Regions from separate parts of the Homo sapiens genome. Here region 2 is linked to region 1. The links come from fine-mapping of genetic effects on gene expression. A gene starts in region 1. The other region holds a variant in brackets. All regions are shown on one strand. Distances are from middle to middle. Region 1 holds the start of ELP6 (elongator acetyltransferase complex subunit 6). Region 2 overlaps KLHL18 (kelch like family member 18).

Region 1 (2,913 bases):
TTGATCCGTCACAATCAGTCTGATGTTGGTGTTTTATGAAATTGTTTATGCTCAACAGGAACACCAAGACCTAGCTGTGAGTGTCAGGCCAATTTTTTTTTCTCTTTCTCACATTTCAATAAGCATGAAACATCTCATTCTTGGCTGAAGGATCTACATCCCTTTGACACAGAGAAGCAGCCTTGATTTCCATCCCAGGTGCAGAGCTTCAGCTAACGATTACATTCCACATCGATCTTAACCTTGTAGTTTCCACAGAAATGACCCTGGGTCCCCTTTGCAGTCCACGCCAGATTAGGACTCCACACACAGCTGTGCTGTGCTTTGAGCATATCAAACACCGGTTCACTTAAATTTCACCTGAATTCGACTCTTTCCCAAATCATATAACAATTATTTTAGTGACTGTCAATAAACTTGACTTTGGTGGAATTACAGGTTTGTCCACTGATCTGAGGCTGATTGGGCTAGAACAAAACTATATACGGTATAATAGATATAAATGTTATGGAAAAAAATAAAAGCAAGGAAAAAGAAGTGTTGGGAAAGGGACAGTTTGTGATTTAAGTAAGGTGCTCAGGGAAGGCCTCACGAATAAAGTGACATCGGAGCAGAGACCTGAAGGAAGTGGGGAATTTTAAAATCAGCTTAATATCTGGGAAAAGGGGCATTCCAGGAAGAGGGAAGAGTTAGTATAAAGGCTCTGAGGACAGGCATACAGGGCGTGTTGCAACCACACTGTTTTTTAACGAAGTCTCACACTGCTGCCCAGGCTAGAGAGCAATGGCGTGATCTCGGCTTACTGCAACCTCTGCCTCCCAGGTTCAAGCGATTCTACTGGCTCAGCCTCCCGAGTGGCTGGGATGACAGGCGCCCCCCACCACGCCAGGCTAATTTTTTGTATTTTTAATAGAGAAGGGGGTTTCACTATATTGGCCAGGCTAGTCTCGAACTCCTGACCTCGTGATCCCTCCGTCTAGGCCTCCCAAAGTGCTGGCATTACAGGTGTGAGCCACCGCGCCCAGCCGCAACCACACTTTCTTAGTGAGACCCACCCTGACAACCTCTTTAATTCTGGAACCTACCCCTGCCCCCATTGGTACTCTCTAATCCCACTTTGCTTTTCTCCACACAACTTTTCAAGATATAATTCCGTGTCGGCCGGGCGTGGTGGCTCATGCCTGTAATCCCAGCACTTTGGGAGGCCGAGGCCGGCGGATCACGAGGTCGGGAGATCAAGACCATCCTGGCTAACACGGTGAAACCCCGTCTCTACTAAAAATACAAAAAATTAGCCGGGCGTGGTGGCGGGCGCCTGTAGTCCCAGCTACACTCGGGAGGCTGAGGCAGGAGAATGGCGTGAACCCAGGAGGCGGAGACTGTAGTGAGCCGAGATCGCGCCACTGCACTCCAGCCTGGGCGACAGGGCAAGACTCCGTCTCAATTAAATAATAATAATAATAATAATAATAATAATAATAATAATAAATTCCCTGTCCTTTGTTTTTGTTCATCGATGTAGCCCAAGCTCCCAGGAGTGTGGGGCATACAGAAGGCGCTTGACAGCCACGTGTGGAGAAAAGGAGCCCGGGGCTGGGCAGAGAGCGAGGCCAAGGGAAGAAGAATACTCGGTCGCGTGGAGCCTTGGGGGCCCACTGGGAGGGCTCGGGCGCCACGCAGATCTGCGCGGAATGAGCCGCCAGAGGCCGCTGGCAGTCGCACAGAGAAGCCCATCGTTTCCTACCACCTGGGACTCGACGGACGTCTACGCGCGTGCGCAGCGGTCCCATCGAGGCACCCGCCTCATTGGCTGTGGCTGGCTCGCAAAAGTGGCATTGCGCATGCGCGCTTCCTTGCGCGAGCCGGGCTGTCGGGTGTGTTTTGCTCTCCAGCCTCCGTCGTCTCTGCAGCACTCCGGGTTCTCCTCCAGAGCGCTAGTCCCAGGAGCTCGGAATGTTCGTGGAACTTAATAACCTGCTTAACACCACCCCCGACAGGGCGGAGCAGGTAAGAGGTCCCGCTGGCCGGAAGGGGGCGGGACCTGGCAGGGCAGCGGAATACTGCATCCGGGAGGCGGTGCGCACGACCCCGGGGAATGGCGCGACGACCCGGCACGGGGTACCTGGGAGTTGTAGTCCGCAGAGGATCGACCCGGGGATTGGACTGGAGGCTTGGGCCCGCCGAAAGTGGGCTTCTGGGCCATCTCGCATATTCTCAACGGCTGTGCGTGTCCTTAAAAGTCCCTGGGAAGCGGCCGGGCGCGGTGGCTCACCCCTGTAATCCCAGCAGTTTGGGAGGCCGAGGCGGGTGCATCATCTAAGGTCAAGAGTTCGAGACAAGTCTGGCCAAGATGGTGAAACCCCCGTCTCTACGAAAAATACAAAAATTAGCCGGGCGTGGTGGCTCATGCCTGTAATCTCAGCTACTCGGGAGGCTGAGACAGGAGAATTGCTTGAACCCGGGAGGCGGAGGTTGCAGTGACCCGAGATCTCGCCACCGCACTCCAGCCTGGGCGACAGAGCGGGACTCCACCTCAAAAAAAAAAAAAAAAAGTACCTGGGAAGCATGGCCGACAGTGGGGTTGGGTTATATTCGCGGACGTGAACTGTGGCGCGCTGTGCATGTTCACTGGGGTGGGGGGTCCCAGGCGCTCAGAGGAGACTGCAGAATAGGCCCGAGAGGAGAGGGGAGTTCGTTTCGCCGCCGTCTTCATGGGCGAGCTTCCTAACCGCCACCTCGCCCCGGAGCAATTGGCACATTGTATTGAACGCTGCTGTTCTTCTTACTCTTCCTCCTTGTGATCTCTAATAGAACTGTTAGAAGCAGGACAGAGCCAAATTGGCTTGGACCAAGTCCGTCTTGGGCACCCCAGGCTGGCCTGTTCTCTCCACCCTCCTCACACTCCGGGGTACC
Region 2 (2,913 bases), 190 kb after region 1:
TGCTCATCATGGATGTTCAGGCAATCTCTGTTAAATGAAGCCCCTGGACTATTCATGGGACGAGCATGCCTCCTTCAGACACACACCTCAGAGAATAGGAGGGCACAACTGCCCTTGGACACCTTACTTCTACGTCTTTCCTCATAAGTAACTGGCCTAAGATTTCTTTCTTTCTTTTTCAAGAGTCAAGGTCTCACTCTGTTGCCCAGGCTGGAGTGTAGTGGTGTGATCACAGCTCGCGGCAGCCTTGACTTCCTCGGCTCACCTCCTACCTCAGCTTTCTAAGTAGCTGAGACTACAGGTGTGCACCACCATGCCCAGCTAATTAAAAACAATTTTTTTTTATAAAGATGTGGTTTATGTTGTCCAGGCTGGTCTTGAACTCCTAGCCTCAAGCAATCCTCCCGCCTTGACCTCCCAAATTGTTTGGATTTCAGGTGTGAGCCACCTTGCCTGGCCTGACCTGAGATTTCTACCTTGCCATGGGTATATAAATCCTCTTCCGGTATTGGGGCACTTTGATCATCTAGAGGGTAACACACAGTCTCCTAGCTCTTTTCCCCCTAGTTGTCACCACTGTCAGATTAAGAGGTTGGGCAATAACTGACTACCAGCTAAGGGGATAACCTTGGGCTTGATCTCCTTGAGCTTCAATTTTCTGAACCATGAAATAACCATAAGATCTGCCACCTTCTAAACCTGTGTTGTCTAATATAGTAGCCATTAGCCACATGTGACTATTTAACTTTAAAATTAAATTGATTAAAATTAAACAAAATTTAAAATTCAGTTCTTCAGTCCCACTAGTCGTATTTCGAGTGCTCAATAGCCATCTGTGTCTAGTGGCTACCATTTTGGGCAATACAAATAGAAAGAACATTTGCATCACTGCAGAAACCTCCAGTGGACAACACTGTTCTAGACTGATAAGAAGGGATGTAAATGAAGACACTTATTTGAAGAACTGTTTTGTCAGCTAAAATGACTAGCCCAGAAAAGTGCAGAGAATAATATACCACCACTCTTAAACCCAGCCCCAGTCAAAAAAAAAAAAAAAAATCATGGAGTCTAGGTCCTATTAAATGTATTTCTCTTATAGTAAGGTAAAAACAGCCCCATCAAAACTCCCTTCATTTTAACCCTATCTCAGACCACTGGCCCAGGTTCTAATCTGCTTATTAATCACTTATTATTTGTGTAGAGCTAGGCTATTAGACACTGTGTCCTGCTGCAGGTCCTCAACGGAACCGTGCACAGGCTGAAACTGCACTTGGAAAGCAGCCTGCGAAACCTAATGGTGGGATTCAGTACCTTGGGTCCATTCCTTGCATTACAATCTCATCCTGCTTGCACTCCATCATGTCATTTGTAAACATAGCATGGAAATACGGGATCGAGGCTGCTAAGACAATCCGGTGGGCACTGAATTTGTGGTCCCCAATCTGTGGGCAAAGTAAAATACAAAGACAGATATTGAGGAATGCAAAACAAAAACAAACAAA[C/A]AAAAAAACCCACCCTGCCCCTCCGCCCGGCTCCACAGCATACCCCACTGCCCACTGCAAAGGCGGTGAAGGCATCCCAGGGCATGGAGGCCAAGGCTTAGCATGATGACCCTGAAGTATTTTAAATGCAATATACTCAGTTACAGTAGAAGAATGTAAACAATACATTTTAATGAAGCGTTAAAACAGCTAAAAAATTTAAGCCTGAATGGTTTCATGTAATCGTTTTTACTTATATGGTAGTCTCCAATGCACCCCTTTCAGCTACTCCACCAACTCAAATACCTGATTCCTGTAACACTTTATCCCAACCTCAGGCAGATGGACTAGACAAATGGTCCAAGAATGCTGGTGCTCCTAACAGTATGCTCCTCAAGAAGAGTAAATATGTAGTGACTGGGCCGGAGGCAGGGGCATGAGGAGATACACTGGTGTTGTGGACTGGCTGCTGCTCTGTATGGCTAGCAGGGACAGAGGCCAACTCTTCCTCCAATGAGTGTCAAATCCTCACTGACACACCCTTAGCCTGAGGAATTCTATAAAGTGTTTTCCAACTATCTGCCAAAAGGCTCTTCCCTTCAATAAGCCATTTATAGCTCCAAGCTATATAAACATTTCCACTTAAGAACTTTCTATTCTCCAGGAAGAGCAAAACAGTCCTTTTTTCCTTTTTATCAGGTTCCACATTAGTGAAAAGCCAGGGAATCTCACTATCTGATGGTCATCTCTTTGTGTCATATTTATCCAAGGATTGAGGTTGGAAGATCGAATCATTGGATTAAACAGGCGTGAGCCACCGCACCCAGCCTCTGCTCAAATTTCTTAGAGTTGTTCTATGAGGTTTATTACAAAAGAAAAAACAACAACTAGCAGTCTCTGTTTTCTTGATTCCTTGCCCGCGATTCCTACTCCCAGGGGCAACCTCTTGCTTCTAGGACTTTTCTCCATCTTTCTAAATAATATGTGCTTACATATTACTTGTTGACTTTTCACTTTGAGTTATTCCCTGTGGTACCCAACCTCTAAATAGCTCCCAGTAAATGCTCACTCTTGGTATTTACACCCTTGTGCAGTCCCCTCCCACAACATGTCAGGGTTGGTCTATGTGACCAACAGAATATAGCAGAAGTGACGATGGTATGTCACATTCAAAGCTAGGTCATAAAAGGCACTGAAATTCCTCTTACCCTCTTCTTCTGGATCACTTGCTCTAAGAGAAGCTAAATAACATATCCTTAAGAGAGGCCCATATGAAGAAGACTGAAGACTTCTACAGCTACCTGAGTGAGCTTGGAAGAGCATCCTCCAGCTCCAGCCAAGCCTTCAGATGACAGCAACTTTGTGAGAAATGTCTAAGCTGCTTCTGAACTCCTGGCCAGCAGAAACTGTGAGATAATAAATACTTGTTTTA

The links. PIP is the estimated chance that this variant, and not a neighbour inherited with it, causes the effect. A credible set is the group of variants that fine-mapping cannot tell apart.
Region 2: its variant is the best candidate, but not a certain one, in a credible set for the expression of ELP6 in whole blood (TOPMed, PIP 0.51).

Annotation. Positions count from the first base shown.
Region 1 is chr3:47,512,631-47,515,543 of GRCh38, reverse strand. It overlaps ELP6 (elongator acetyltransferase complex subunit 6), which reads left to right and starts at 1,832. Exons shown (of 7, transcript NM_001031703.3): 1 at 1,832-2,007. The coding sequence starts at 1,954. RefSeq lists enhancers at 1,868-1,977, 2,308-2,417.
Region 2 is chr3:47,318,182-47,321,094 of GRCh38, reverse strand. KLHL18 (kelch like family member 18) reads right to left here. Exons shown (of 10, transcript NM_025010.5): 2 at 1,312-1,442. Among named protein-coding and RNA genes, the nearest start is that of KLHL18, 37 kb to the right of the region's middle. The variant C/A (reference allele first, on the strand shown) is at 1,503.